Regions from separate parts of the Homo sapiens genome. Here region 2 is linked to region 1. A link means that fine-mapping ties the variant in region 1 to the expression of a gene that starts in the linked region. Tissue or cell type: lung. Region 1 holds a variant in brackets; the other region holds the start of a gene. All regions are shown on one strand. Distances are from middle to middle.

The links. PIP is the estimated chance that this variant, and not a neighbour inherited with it, causes the effect.
Region 2: it holds the start of SP100, and the variant in region 1 is fine-mapped to the expression of SP100 in lung (TOPMed, PIP 0.97).

The regions. Positions count from the first base shown.
Region 1 is chr2:230,963,825-230,971,928 of GRCh38, reverse strand. No RefSeq gene overlaps it. Among named protein-coding and RNA genes, the nearest start is that of SPATA3-AS1, 28 kb to the left of the region's middle. The variant G/A (reference allele first, on the strand shown) is at 3,065.
Region 2 is chr2:230,412,823-230,420,926 of GRCh38, reverse strand. SP100 (SP100 nuclear antigen) reads right to left here and starts at 4,726. Exons shown (of 29, transcript NM_001080391.2): 1 at 4,599-4,726; 2 at 3,262-3,336. The coding sequence starts at 4,630. RefSeq lists an enhancer at 4,560-5,079.

The DNA of each region.
Region 1 (8,104 bases):
TGGAATTCCTGGATCATATGGTAATTCTTTTTTTATTTTATTTTATTTATTATTATTATTTTTGAGATGGAGTCTCACTCTGTTGCCCAGGCTGGAGTGTAGTGGTGCGATCTTGGCTCACTGCAACCTCCGTTTCCCAGGTTCAAGCGATTCTCCTGCCTCAGCCTTCCGAGTAGCTGGGATTATAGGTGCCTGCCACTGCGCCCAGCTAATTTTTGTATTTTTAGTTAATTAATTAACTAAATAATTAATAAAAAATAATTATTTTATTTTTAGGGTTTCACCGTCTTGGCCAGGCAGGTCTTGAACTCCTGACCTCATGATCTATGCACCTCGGCCTCTCAAAGTGCTGGGATTACAGGTGTGAGCCACCGCGCCTGGCCTCTATTTTGAATTTTTTGAGAAAATGCCATTCTGTTTCCAGTAGTGGCAGCACCACTTTACATTCCTATCAGTACAAGGATTCCAATTCTTCAATATCCTCTCTTTCTTTCTTATAATAGCCATTCTAGTGGGTATGAAGTGGCATCTCGTGGTTTTGATCTGAATTTCTCTAATTAGTGATGTGCTGAAGTGCATGGCACCATCATAGCTCACTGCAGCCTCAAAATCTTGGCCTCAAGTGATCCTCCTGCCTAGTCTCCTGAGTAGCTGGAAGTATAGCTATGTGCCACTACACCGAGCTAATTTTTTTAATTTTCAAATTGTTTATAGAGATGGGGTTTCACCATGTTGTTCAGGCTGGTCTTGAACTCCTGGCTGCAAGTGATCCTCCCACCTTGGCCTCTCAAAGTGTTAGGATTACAGGCATGAGCCACCATGCCTGGCCAGCCATTCTTCTCTAGAGACATATCTATTCAAGTTCTTTGTTCATTTTTGTATTGTGTTGTTTGTTTTTGTTGTTGTTTTTAAGTTTTAGGAGTTCTCTATATGTTCTGGATATTAATTCCTTATCAGATATCATCACGGATTTTTTTTTTACATGATTTTGAAACTTTTCTTCCTTGTAAAAGTTTGAGATATAAAGAATTCCCAGGCTGGGCATGGTGGCTCATGACTGTAATCCCAACATTTTGGAAGGCCGAGATGGGAGGATTGCTTGAGCCCAGGAGTTCAAGACCAGCCTGGGCAACATAGTGAGATCTCATCTCTACAAAAAATTTTAAAATTAGCCAGTCATGGTGGTGTGCACCTGTAGTCCCAGCTACTCAGGAGGCTGAGATGGGAGGATCGCTTGAGCCCAGGAAGTCAAAGCTGCAGTGAGCCATGATCATGCCATTGCACTGCAGCCTGGGTGACAGAGCAAGACCCTGTCTCAAACAACAACAAAAGCAAAAACAACAACAACAACGACAAAATAATTCCCAAACTGGGCTCTTACTGGAATGACTTATGGTCCAAATGTATAACTGAATTGTGTAACTAAGAATTAAATAGCCATCCTAAAGTTTATTTAGCTTAATATTACAAATGCAAGTACACCAAATAATTTTTATAAGGATTAGATGTCATAAAGTCTAATGTCTGTCATCATACTTAACAGTCTCATTTAAATCTTTATATTGTGTTGCATCATAGGTGATACATTGCTCTTTTTTTTCTTTTCTTTTTTTTTTTTTTTGTGAGACAGGGTCTTTCTCTGTCATCCAGGCTGGAGTGCAGTAGCGCAACCTTGGCTCACTGCAGCCTTGACTTCCTGGGCTCAAGAAAACCTCCCACCTCAGTCTCCTGAGTAGCTGGTACTAGAGGTGCTATTGTTCTTCTTAAAGTTATCTAGTTAACACATTATCTTAACCATCAATCTACTTCCCTATTTATCTGTTGAGAAGCTCTTAATAACTGTTTTGGTACATAAAGTAAATACCTTTCACAATCATCACTAATTATTGGCACATTTTGCTCCAGCAATAATAATGGTGCATTTATACTTCAATGGACTGATAGAACTTCAAAACCTAAAGCACATAATATTTTCTCACTCCTCGTTACATCTCACATGCTCAACTATAATTCAAAGTGAATATGCAGCCTTACCACCGAATTGGAATGGCCTGCCTTGCTGGAGTAACTCCAGATGATATGCAGGCTCCATATCATGATCATTTCTGTGGCCACCTGGTCCCTGATGGACTTCAAGGCAGTGAAGCTGTTACCAGTGGAGGGTGTCCAGGTTCTTGGCATTTTGAACAAAGAGTTGGACAAAACCCACAAACAAAGCAAGGAAAGAATGAAGCAACAAAAGCAGAGATTTATTGAAAATGAAAGCACACTCCATAGGGTGGGAGCGCCCCGAGCATAGGGACTCAAGAGCCCAGTTGCAGAATCTTCTGGGGTCCGAATACCCCCTAGAGGTTTCCCATTGGCCACATGGTGTTCACCCCATGCAAATAAAGTAGTGGCCCGAAATCAATCTGATTGGTTGCAGAAAGCAACTCATCAGAGACTGAAGTGAAGTTACAAAGTTACACTCCTATGCAAATATCTGATCGGTTGCAGGAAGCAACCAATCAGAGGTACTTTCAGTTTTCCAGCAGAAACGGGTGGGTGGTTTTCAAAGGGAGTCGCCCCTGGTCCTTTTGCTACTTAGGTATGGAAAGTTGGGGTTTTCCTTTCAATTTGGTTCTAGGAAGTCAGCGTGAATCAGCCTTAGGTTTCCTGCCTCCAGACCCTAGTCTCCTGCCTCAAAGTGGCCAGTCGGCTCTCGGGCCTTCCCAAGGCAGAAGGTGGAGCTGAAAAGCAGACTTCCCTGAATGCTGAGGCTAAGTTGAAAAGTGGTGTAGGCTCTGTGCAGCCCACCTGAAGAACAGAGGAAGGGAGCACCAGAAAGCTGCTTGGGAGCTGGGTCTCAGGATGCCGGGCAGAGGCGTTTGAGCTTTACCCCTTGGGTGGTAGAGCATGGACCACTGCAGGCTCTCCAGGTCGTGAGTGGGCGTGGGTGGACCCGTGGGCCTATTTGATTTAGTTTCTCTCTCCCACACCATGGGAGCCATCTTCTCCCTCTTGCGACTCCCTGTCTTATAAACCAGAGAAGATGACTAGTGCTTATGAAAAGCACTTTTGTGCT[G/A]ACAGGTGCCCTAAGGCCACCATCATCATCCGTGAGGATTTCTCTTTTTGTCAGAGTGCTGCAGCAGCTGCAGCCTCATTCAGGGTCTGGCCTGTGTCCCCAGATTGCAGAGGAGAAAAGAGCCAACATAGGCCAGGCACAGCGGCTCACGCCCGTAACCTCAGCACTTTGGGAGGCTGAGGCAGGCAGATCCCTTGAGTCCAGGAGTTTGAGACCAGCCTGGGCAACATAGTGAGACCCCGTCTCTAAAAAAAAAAAAAAAAAAAAGCCAGGATAGGTGGCATGTGCCTGTAGTCTCAGCTACTTGGGAGGCTGAGGTGGGAGGATTGCTTGAGCCTGGGAGGTCGAGGCTACAGTGAGCCATAATTGCATCACGGCACTCCAGCCTGGGAGACTGCTGAAACGCCCCAAAAACAAACAAAAGAACTACCACAGACCCAACAGTACAAAATCCAAAAGACCTGAAAAAGGTATACCATTCAAAATAGGTATCCCTCCCATTCTGTCCTCAGGGTTCCTGTTTTCTTTTTCCCTGAAGGCAACCGGGCTTCCAGCTTCTTATGTGTCCTTGCAAAGATTTTTTTTTAGAGATTGTCCGTACAGTACCTCTACAAGCAAATAAGGATAAATAAGGCCTTGGTTTCTTTCTTTCTTTACATAAACAATAGTGTACCATACACATTTCTCTGTGCTTTCTTTCCACAATATATTTTGGAGCTTGTCCTACATTTGGTCATAAAGCATTTCCTTTTTCTTCCTTGCAGCTGCATGGTATTCCGTTACGTGGCTGTCCCATCGTTTTTTAACCAATCTCTTAATGATGGACAATTGAGTGGTTTCTGCTCTTTTTGTTATCAACAATGTTGCAGTAAATAACTGTGGATTTGTTATTCCACACGTGAGTATATCTCCAGGATGCATTCTTCGTGTAGAACTGTAGGGTCAAAGGGCCTGCACAGCTATAATCTTGATTAATATTACCAAAATTTCCCCCACTAGGATTGTACCCATTTACATTTCCACCGATGATTCTTGAGAGTGCCATTTCCCACTTTACTCACATCATGTGCTGTCAAGCTTTTGAATGGGTGCCAATCTGATAAGATGAAACTGGTACCTCAGTGTACTTTTAATCCTGTATGTTTCTTATTAAGAGTGACACTGAGGCCGGGCATGGTGGCTCACGCCTGTAATCGTAACACTTTGGAAGGCCACGGCAGGCAGATTTCTTGAGCTCAGGAGTTTGAGATCAGCCTGGGCAACATGGTGAAACCCTATCTCTGCAAAACACACAAAAATTAGCCGGGCATGGGGGCACTCACTTTTAGTCCCAGCAACTCAGGAGGCTGAGGCGGGAGGATCACCTGAGCCTCTCAAGAAGTAGAGGCTGCAGTGAGCTGTGATGGCACCACAGCACTTCAGCTTGGGCAACAGATCAAGACCCTGCCGAAAGAGAGAGAAAGAAAGGAAGGGGAGGGGAGGGGAGGGGAGGGGAGGAAGAAAGAAAGAAAGAAAGAGAGAGAAAGAGTGACATTGGTTGAGCAATTTTCTATTGTTTAAAAATCACTGTATTTCTTTTTTTGTGAACCGTCTGTCTGTTCATGTCCTCCTTGCCCCCTTTCTATTGGGTTGTTAGCATTTTCTCACTGATTTGCTTGTATATAAGTGGTGAAAAGTTTTTTTTTTTTCTTTCAGTTTGGCATTTATCTTTTGACTGCTTATGGTGGCTTTACAGAAAGACTTTATTTTTGGCCAGGCACAGTTGCTCATGCCTGTAATCCCAGCACTTTGGGAGGCCGAGGCAGGCAGATCACCTGAGGTCAGGAGTTTGAGAACAGCCTGGCCAACATGGTGAAACCCCGTCTCTACTAAAAATACAAAAATTAGCTGGGCGTGGTGGCATATGCCTGTAATCTCAGCTACTTGGGGGGCTGAGGCAGGAGAATGGCTTGAACCCAAGAGGCAGAGGTTGCAGTGAGCCAAGACACACCATTGCACTCCAGCTTGGGCGACAAGAGGGAGACTCCACCTCAAAAAAGAGAAGAAAAAAAGAAAAAAAAAAGCTCATAGAATAAGGGTACAAAGAAAATATTTTGTGCAGCTCTATATGTTGGTGTTTTATGCTAAGTATTATTATAAAAAAGTCCAAATGTTTTTAAAAATTGAAAAGTTTGTAAAATAAAAAAAGTACAGTAAGCTAAGGTTATGTTATTCTTGAGGAAAGAACAAATTTTTCATAAACGTGGTGTAGCCTAAATGTACAGTGTTTACAAAGTCTACAGCAGTGGTCGGTAATGTCCCAGGCCTTACCGTTCACTCACCAACCACTCACTGACTCACCCAGAGCAACCTCCAGTCCTGCAAGCTCCATTCATGGTAAGCGCCTTACACAGGTGTACCATATTTTTATTTTTCCTACCATATTTTGAACGATATTTTTCTATGTTTAGATACACCATTGTGTTGCGATTGCCTACAGTATTCAGTACAGAAACATGCTGCACAGGCTTGTGGCCTAGGAGCAACAGGCTAACCCATATAGCCCAGGTGTGCAGTAGGCTATGCCATGTAGGCTAACACGTATAGCCCAGGTGTGCAGTAGGCTATGCCATTGTAGGAACCCTACAATGTTCACACAATGAAACTGCCTTACAATGCAGTGTATTAGCTGGGAATTCCAGTATGATATAGAAAGGACTGGTGAGAGAGAACATCCTTGACTTGTTCATGATTTTACGGTAAAACATCTAGTTTTACACCATTAAGTCTAACGTTAAATGTAGGGGTTTTTTGTAGCTGTTCCTCATCAGGTTGAGGGAGTTCTTCTCTATTCCTAGTTTGCTGAAGATTTTGGGTTGTATTTTTATCATGAATGGGTATTGAATTTTGTCAGATGCTTTTTCTCCATTTATTGATGTGATCATATGATTTTTCTTTTTGAGCCTGTTGATGTGATGAATTATGTAAATTGATTTAAGAATGTGAGTCAGATTTGCATACTTGAAATAAATCTCAGTGTTGGACAAATCTGACATTATTGAAAGATTTGTTACCATTTCATTGAGGATTTTTGCATCTTCAATTCTTTTAAACATGTTTATGTTCCATATATGGCACAGAATGTGGTCTATTGTGGTAAATATTTCTGGTAAGCATGAGAAGAATGTGTATTCTACTGTTGTTGGATGAATTTGTTTATAAATGTCTATTATGTCCTGTTGATTGATGCTGCTGTTCAGTTCAGCTATATCCTTATTGGATATGTCAGCTACTGATCTCTTATGTTGAGGTATCCAACTATAAGAATGGATATTTTAATTTGCCTTGCAATTCTACTAGTTTTTGCCTTACATATTTTGACATTGTTAGGTACATATATGTTAAGAATTATTCTATTTTCTTGGGGAATTGATCCCTTTATCACTATGTAATGTTCCTCTTTCTCCCTTATAATTTTCCTTGTTCTGAAGTCTGCTTTATCTGCAATTAATACAGTTGCCCCACCTTTCTTTGATTAGAGTTTGTATGGTACGATGCATCCCATTACTTCTTTCATTTATTTACTTTTTAAAAGTTAGACATTCTTTTTGTGGTGAAATATAAATAACGTAAAAATTACCATCTTAACTATTTTTAAGTGTATAGTTTAGTGGCAGTCATATTGTTGTGCATCCATCACCACCACCCACGATGAGTTCATCTGGGAGACCGATCCATACTAGAGTGCCTCAGAACTCTTTCACCTGGGAAAACTGAAATTCTATAGCCATGAAACAAAAACTAATTATACTTTTCATCTCTGTGAATTTGACTACTCTAGGACATTGGAGAAGTGAAATCATACAGTATTTGTCTTTGTGTGACTGGTGTGATAACAAAACTATCACAAAAGGCTCTGTAAAAACCAAAACCTTGCACAAAAGCCATTGTAACCTTACACAAAAAAATACTTCCGCAAGGAAATCTGCCCAGCAAAGCTAAATGTTCAACCTTGGACAGGCATCACCTTTGTTACTGACTCTTGTAGCCAAGGATAATCATTTCAAAACAATCATATTGAGAGGTGACAGCGTGCTGGCAGCCCTCGCTCGCTCTCGGCGCCTCCTTGGCCTCTGCGCCCACTCTGGCCGCGCTTGAGGAGCCCTTCGGCCTCCCGCTGCACTGTGTGGGAGCCCCTCTTTGGGCTGGCTGAGGCCAGAGCCGGCTCCCTCTGCTTGCGGGGAGGTGTGGAGGGAGAGGCGCGGAAGGAGAGACGCGGGTGGGAACCGGGGCTGCACGGGGTGCTGGCGGACCAGCGCGAGTTCCGGGTGGGTGTGGGCTTGGCAGCCCTGCAGTAGGAGCGGCCGGCCGCCACCACCAGTCCTGGGCAGTGACGAGCTTAGCACCTGGGCCAGTAGCCACAGAGAGTGCGCTGGGTCCCCCAGCAGTGCCGGCCCGCCCACGTTGCACTCGAATTCTCGCGGGTCCTCAGCTGCCTCCCCGCAGGGCAGGACTCAGGACCTGCAGCCTGCCATGCCCGAGCCTCCCCACCTCCGTGGGCTCCTGCTCCGCCCGAGCCTCCGTGGCTCTGGGTCCCATCACCGCCCAAGGTGCTGAGGAGTGCGGGTGCACGGTGGGACTGGCGGGCAACTCCGCCTGTGGCCTTGATGCAGGATCCACTAGGTGAAGCCAGCTGGGCTCCTGGGTTTAGTGGGGACTTGGAGAACCTTTATGTCTAGCTAAGGGATTGTAAATACACCAATCAGCACTCTGTATCTAGCTCAAGGTTTGTAAACACACCAATCAGCACCCTGTGTCTAGCTCAGGGTTTGTAAATGCACCAATCAGCACTCTGTATCTAGCTAATCTAGTGGGGACATTTATGTCCAGCTAAGGGATTGTAAATACACCAATCAGCACTCTGTGTCTAGCTCAAGGTTTGTAAACATACCAATCAGCACCCTGTGTCTAGCTCAAGGTTTGTAAATGCACCAAGCAGTGCTCTATGTCTAGCTAATCTAGTGGGGACTTGGAGAATTTTTCTGTCTAGCTCAGGCATTG
Region 2 (8,104 bases), 550 kb after region 1:
GTCTGAAACTTGAAAAATTACAAAGAGCTGTATCAGCACATCATTTCAAAATACAGAAGTAAATACAAAAGTAAGAGCCAAAAAGTTAATCCATTAGGGAAACTGGACATGGGCTGGGAAGATGGCAGAAAGTACTACTTGTGTTTTTAAAGGTCTTATTGACTGATACTTTAAGCTATATATATATATATGTTTTACTTTGGTGAAATTAATAACCGAATTAATAAAATGTTTCAATATAATTTACTGTGGATAAATCAGATTAAAAGAGAAAAATGATACAATTCTCAAAGATTCTTTAGTAGGCATTTTGATAAATATCCTATACACAGGCCTGATTAAAATAAATAACTTTTAGTAAACCAGAGCCAGCAGGAAATGTCCTTAACTTGAAAAAAGGTGTCTATAAGAAAGCCTCAATTTAAACATTATAAGTATTCCCCTTGAAATCAGGAATAAAACTAAAATGTTCATTTTTACTGTTACTATTCAGTATTACACTGGCAGTCCTGGCTAATGCGCTAAGGCAAAAGAGAAAGAAAAAAGAAAGAAAAAGAAAAGTATACAGGTATAAATTCTGAAAAAGAGGAGACAAAGCTGCTACTATCTTTGAAGATGTAATTATTTCTCCAGAAAAACACAAGACAATATTAAGAGGGAGAAGACCACTTAGTAAGACTCCTATGCACAAGATCAGCTAACTAAAATGAATAGATTTCCCTTATGCCAGCAAGAAATAACTAGAAAATGTAAAAGGAAAATGAATTCCTGTTTACAAATACAATTTTAAAATGCCTAGAACTAAAGCGACCCAACAAGGTCCCAAGTTCAAACAATCATGAATAAATGGAGAGATTTACTATGTTTCTCACTGGGGCCATTCAGGATTTTTTTAAAACATAAATTCTTCCTAAATTTATCTGTTCATTTAGTGTCTCTCAATTCAATCCCAGTAAGGTAGGTTACAGAACACTACCTATAAAATCATAGTAACTAAAACATTTCAGTATTGAAACAAGAATGAAAATAGAACCATGGATCAGATCATGGGTCACCAACGCAAATTCATATGTAAAATTTAGCACACTAGTTCCCTTCTATCCACAGGGGATGCTTCCAAGAACCCCAGTGGATGCTTGAAACCGCAGATAGTACCAAACTCTGCATATACTATGTTTTCCCCAATCTGTACATAAATTAGGCACAATAAAAGATGAATAACAATATCTAATAATAAAGTAGATCAACTATAACAATGTAGTGTAATAAAAATTATGTAAATGTGGTCTCTTTTTGTCTCTCAAAACATCATACTGTAGATATTAACAACCTCAGCATATTATTTTTTTCTTTCAGGAAATTTCACATTTTCACCTAAAGGAAGCCCTTGACGGCTTCTCTTTGGCATATCTGAATTGCCAGCATCAACCTTCTTGTGCTTTGGGGCCATTATTGACTAAAATAAGGGTTCCTTGAACACAAGCTCTGTTATACCAGGACAGTCGATCTGATCACCAGGACAGCTACTCAGCGACTCATGGGCTGGTAGTGTCTACACTGTGGATACCCTGGATAAAGGGATGGTTCACATCCTGGGCAGGATGGAGAGGGACAGCATGAGATTTCATCACACTCCTCAGAACGCCAAGTATCTTAAAACTCATGAATTGTTTTCTGGAATTTTGCATTTAATGTTTTTGGACCAAGTTTTACTGCAAGTAACTGAAATCTCAGAAAGTAAAACTGTTGATAAGGGAGGACTACTTTAGTTAATAATGGCATAAAAATATCAAATATCTATGAAGGAATCTAGCAGAAGGGCAAAACCTTCAGAGAGAAAAATACAAATTTTAATAGGAGACATTTTTAAAGTAATAATATACATAAACCATATTCATGAGATGGAAGTCTCGTGAATGTAAAGATGTCCATTCTCTTCAAATTGATTTATAGATCCAGTGCAGTTCCACACAAAATCTCGAGATTTTGACAGGCAAATTTGGGAGTCTAAGACATTCTGGAGGAAGAGGAAGAGATTTGCTCCCTCAGATGTCAAGAGTTCCTGGGAAGCTGCCATCACTATGGCAGCGTGGTACTGGCATAAGGAGGGGCTGTCACCGGCCAAGGGGAGAGAAGAGAGAACACAGAAGCACACCCTGCCTCTATACTCCCAAAAAGGGTAGCACTGCGAATCAGCAGGGAAAAGGATAATTTAATCAATCAACGGTGAACTCAGAAAAATTGATAAGAATCAAAACAAAGACTTCAAACTGTAGCTCAGACAAAAAACAATTTGATCTCAGATAAAACAGGGAATGTTAAAAAAAAAAAGAAAAAAAGTTCATCCAGATTATGACTAAGCAAACGGGAAGTTTGGGGTGACCTGCCCTGGCCAAGCCTGGCTAGAGGAGCTGTAAAGCCACCACAGGCACGTGGAACACAAGATCAGACAGAATCAGTCTGGAAAAATAACTAAGAGACAACAAGGAGAATATCCCAAAGTTCTTAACAGCACAGGCAAACCTAAATAAAGCAAGACTGTGAAGACTGAATGACAAGAGGTTATGGAGCTTGCAGGCGTACAGAAACCAATTAAGATCCCTCCTCAAAAATAAACACTATCAATTTTTAAAAAATTAGAAATGACAAGAAACAAGAAACCTACTAGAAGGTAAATAATTGTCATGGAGGAAAAGTTTGAGACAACTATTATGAACACAAAGTGAAAGACTGAAAAGATGAAAACGGGGCAAATAAAAGCTGTGAAGGCTAAAGTGGCTCCAATGTAAGAATATTTTTGTTTAAAAATTTAAAAAATTTTCAGAGATATTAGAGGAGGAACTCTTCCTGGAATAGCGGTAGCAGCGAATCTGCCACCTTAACACAGAAATAATTGTAAAAACTAAGAGTGCTCACAGAGGGTGTCAGCATCACCTCGTTTATAACAAGGGTGCATCTATCTTAAAAAAATCTGTATCACAAGAGGCCTATATGTTAAGTTTTAAGCTTTAATAAGATAAAAGTCACCATAGACAAAGGTAATGGACAAGAAAAGTATATTTATACTTACAGAATATTTAGTGAATTCTCCCATATCACGAAAAAAAGGACAAACACCTCAACGGAATCATATTGGCAAAAAACAAACAAGCAATTTATAGAAGAGGGAATTTAAATGGCCAAGAAACATGAAAAGCTGATCAATTTTCCCATCGTAAGGAAAATACAAATTAAAACAAGACATAACTCTTCATTCATCACCTTTGCAAATCGTGGCTGTGTGCAGGAAGATGGTTCATCTCATTTGCTACTGGTGAAATACATTCATTCAGCCTCCTAGAAAGACAATTTGGCAGGACCAAGTAAATAACTGGACCCTTTGCCTCAATAATTACATTTTTAAGGTTTAGAGACAAGATAAATATTTGTTTAGATGTAAAAACCCAAAAAGAAATATATAATCATTGTTATGATAGCTTATTGGTAAATGTGAACAATTTAAAAACAATCTAAATGTCCTTCAATTGGAGAATAAATAATTATCATATATCAATTCTATGGAATAGCATGTATAAAAAGAATGAGGCAGATCTATATGTATTAAGGTTAAAAGATCTCTAAGTTTTCCACTATTAAAATAAGTAAAAATGCAAAATGCAGACTAGCACATGTAATATAATTTATTATAAATCAAGAACATAAATTACGTATTTACAAAAAATGCATTAGATATATAAATGCATAGAAAAATATAAGAAAAGCTGTGCCCAAGACTCTTCACAGGACTGGGAAGAGAAGCTACAAGAATGGCTGAGTGGCAAAGATGACTTTTTCCTTAATATACTTCTCCACTGTTTTAAATTTTATGAACAATAATGTACAGTGTATTTCTTTTGTATTAAAAAATTTAAAAGATTAAGTAATGTTATTTCTCAACTCACTACTAGAGAAAAGTTAGGATTTCCTTCTCTTTTCTGGTCAGAGGTATCCCCCATCTTGGGACAGGAAATTGAGGTAAAAATGAAAATATTTAGCCGTTTGTCACCCTGGGCCTTTTTCTTCCCTTTCCTTCTTTTGATCAAGGTTGATGGAATAAGAACTCAGACCCTGAGCCAGTCATGGGAACAGCCGGCAGAGGCCCCTTGCCAGGACAGGTGAGACCACAGCGTCTGATGTTTAAAAGTAAGCCAGGTGTTTACCCTGGAGTGTTTATTTTCTAAAGCACCTTTTTTGACATGACATATTTGAAGGTAGAGGAAGGCTGAGGGGTGAAAGGGTTCACAGATCATGAGGAAATAGTTAATCCCAGCCACCAACAACTGCTATGTTTAGAGTGTCCCGGTCAGCTGAGCAGTAAATCCAAAACAAGAAAGTCACGTGTGTTATGGCAAGTTGAACTCACACCAACAGCTGTCCTGCTCCTGTTTAAAAAATCTGATTTCCTCATTACTTGTCTTTCATTTCATTATATAACATCGCATACCTATGTTCTTGCAAAGAAGGATTAAAGTGAAGCCTTAGGCACAAACTGAACTAAAGGCATGAAAGCTGCAATATAGCCAGAGATAAAGGTTAAAGGAAGGGAGATAAAGACTCACCTGGTGCTCAGGTCGCCGCCCCCACCTGCCATCTTCCCACCCTAGGCCCTGCGTGGGCCTCAGAGCCTGGCCTCTGAGCCCCTCAGTCGGCCCAGCCTGCGTGCAGTGTGGCTGCCCAGGCCCCAAGCAGGAAGTCGGCCGACAGACTGACTCAGAAAGGGCTCCGCCCAAATGGGGAAAAGAGAAGTGAAAGTATTTAACCTCCTTCTGGGCTACGGACACTGTGTTTCTCCTCCTTTTTCACTCCAAGGGATTCTCAGCTTTTCTGAAATGTGGCAGAGGGTTGGAGGAGAGGCCTGACAAGCAGCAAGACCTGCAGGACCAGGGAAGGAGGGCCCAGGGGACGAGCAGGGCCAGCTCCCGGGTGTCCACTTGTTTGTGCAATACACAGCCAAAAAAAATGTCCTTGAAACAAAATTGTCCTTAGCTGCTCTGCCCTCTAAGAGGGGGCATAGTTTACATGGGAGTTGGGGGGGAAACTCCATGTTTGCCCCTTCCCCTTGCTGACATGGCTTGGGGTGGGAGTTGGAGGGTTGGAGGGAAAGCCAGAAACCTCAAATCTTCTCTCAGGCCCATGGGAGAGCATGGACTGGACTAAGGTAGGTCCTGACATTGGGACCCAGGGCTGGAGAGAACCAAAATGCTCAGCATTATAACCTGGGGAGAGTGTGCTTAGCCTTCCTGGAAATCAGCCAGAAGTAAGAGAGAACTCTCCACACCCCTGGGACCAGAGGCTGGAGCCAGCATGGTAAGAAAGGCAAACATTTTAAGGGGCAAGGGTTTAAGGAATCTTGACTATGGGGCCGCCTTGGAACAGCCAGGGGTGAAGAGACACCTAAGCTTCGGAGAAGTCACTGGAATCTTGAGAGAACAAAAGCTTCTCATTGGAGGAGGATGGAGGTTGGAACCCAGATGATCTAGACATGGAAGGGCAGGGTGGCTCCCGCGGGAGGTTCTATCTCTGCCCAGATTTTCCATTTAGATTCTGATTCATCATTCCTCAGAGAACAAGAAGCGACCGAGAAGACTCGCTTTACATCAGTATAAAGTCATAGGTAAAGAAACAGAAGCAAAGGGCGCATGAGAATGGGGCCACAGGACACAACCAGGGACCAGAACTCCAGGCCGGACCATGGGGCAGAGACAGGGAGGCAGCTGGGAGCCTGGGGGCGCTGGAATCCAGGGCCCAAGGTGAGCAGAGGGTGGAAGCTGGTGAGGATTCAGGGGCCAGAGGGGATGGCACTTCAGAACGGTGTTTTCCAAATGGCATTCTACTGAATCCAACTTCTTCCAGCTGTGAATAAGGATGCTTGTCCAGGTACATTTGAAAATGTGGGGGAAGGGGCTTTCTACCCTCACTCTACTTCTGCTCTTCTTTTCCCCATGAGTGAATGACCAGGCACCAGGACATTGGTGAGGACAGCTTTGCCGGTGGGCGAAGGTCACTGTTTCTATCAGGCACTGCACACCTGTAGGTCTCTCTCTCTTTCTCTCACCTGTAGGTCTCTCTCTCTTTCTCTCATTCTTCCTACCCCCCATGACTCCCCGACTTTATGGGGCTGAAGGGCTGGTAAGCTGAGCCTCTTTTGGGCACAGCTGTCCTTTGATCCCAGTCTCCATGAGGCACATTGGTCCCAAGAAGTCCTGGCATGGACCACACAGTATGCTTTGGTGTGGTTCACGTTCTCCCCTCTCGCTGCCTCTGGGCAGCAGGCAGGCTCAGGCCATTGAGTGGCACTGACATAAACGTGCCAGCTTTTCCCTGGATGTGCTTAGGGGCTACTAAGAGCAGCACCTGGAATTCCAGACCAATGAGCCACAGGCTGGCAGGGAATTCCTTACGGGTTGAACTTCACGGGCAGACATGCCCATGCTGGGGCACCTCCTGGCAGCAGGGAAGGAGATGTTCTCATCAGATGAGGTTGGAGACAGATGAGCATGCACCATGCTCCGCTGGTATATGGAGAATCTGTAGGCCTCTGTGAAGAAAGCAAAGTTTCTCTGATCCAGAAAACAATGTCAGACACACTGGGGTTGGGAAAGGGACGGGACCACATTAAGAAGACATGTGAGCTAAAAATCCTGCTGGACTGTTTAGAAGGAAATAATGGAACTCCTGGGGCATTTTCCATGGCTGCAAGGAGCACAGGCAATAGGGAATATTTCTGTTGTCAAGAAGTAGTTCCAGTTACTGGAGCCTGGAAAACTCAAAAGCAGGGGAGGCAGTGATTGAGGAAGGACCACAGGCAGGGCACCCAGCCAGATGATGGGCCTCTTACATTTCACCAAGAGCAGCTTCAGTTCAGACTTCAGTGGTGTGGGTGAGGCAGGAGAATAGGGTCTGGAGGCAGGGAACCTAAGGCCATTTCATGCTAACTTCCTAGAACTAAATTGAAAGGAAAACCCTAACTTTCCATGCCTAAGTAACAAAAGGTCCAGAGGCTACTCCCTTTGCAAACCCCCACCTTTTCTGTGGGGCAATGGGAAATGGAAAGTACCTGTGTATAGTTGTTTTTTGCATAGGAGTGTAACTTTGTAACTTTACTTCAGCCTCTGATGGGTTGCTGTCTGCAACCAATCAGACTGATTGCAGGCCAAGTCTTCCTTTGCATAGAAGTACAACTTTGTAATTTCACTTTAGCCTCTGATTGGTTGCTTTCTGCAACCAATGAGATGTTTGCACAGGAGTGTGACCTTTGTAACTTCACTTCAGCCTCTGGTTGGTTGCTTTCCTCAACCAATCAGACTGATTGCAGGCCGCCACTTCATTTACATGAGGTGAGCACCAAGTGGTCAATGGGAAACCTCCAGGGGGTATTTGGACCAGAGAAGATTCTGTATGCGGGACCGTTGAATACTGCTTGGGCCTGCTCCCACACTGTGGAGTGTACTTCTATTTTCAATAAATCCCTGCTTTCGTTCTTTTGTTGCTTCATTCTTTTCTTGCTTTGCTGTGCGCTTTGTCCAATTCTTTGTTCAAAACGCCAAGAACCTGGACAACTTGCAGTCAAGACCCTCTACTGGTAACATGGTGGGGGGTGATTCTTCAACCTGGGACCCCCATGTGAGAACCAGAGGTCTGTACCTGAGATGAGGTCATTGGCATCATGGACCAGAGAGTTTCAGGGCAGGAGGCAGCTACAGGAACAGTGCCACTGGGGCATGAGAATAGAGAACCTGGCCACCCTCCAAGGGACGTAGAAGTGACGAGTGAAGGGCAGGCGCCTGGGATCTTTAGTGGGAGCACCCAGTCCTGCCGAACTGTCTCCTTCTAGGAGGTGGAACATCAATCAGTCAAGGCCCGGTCCCTTCCGGTCCCCGCCCATCTTCTAGGGGACGCTTCTCTGACTGGGAGTGGGAGTGAGCCTGCTCTTTGCTGGGTGTCCCTGGAGTCATCCTGCCTGCAGAGACCAAGACTCTGTTGGCTCCTCCAAGCTCAAGTGCACAAGGACAGGGGCCTGCATAGCGTGGGGGAGAGTTGGAACAGCCTGAGGCCATGCGGATAA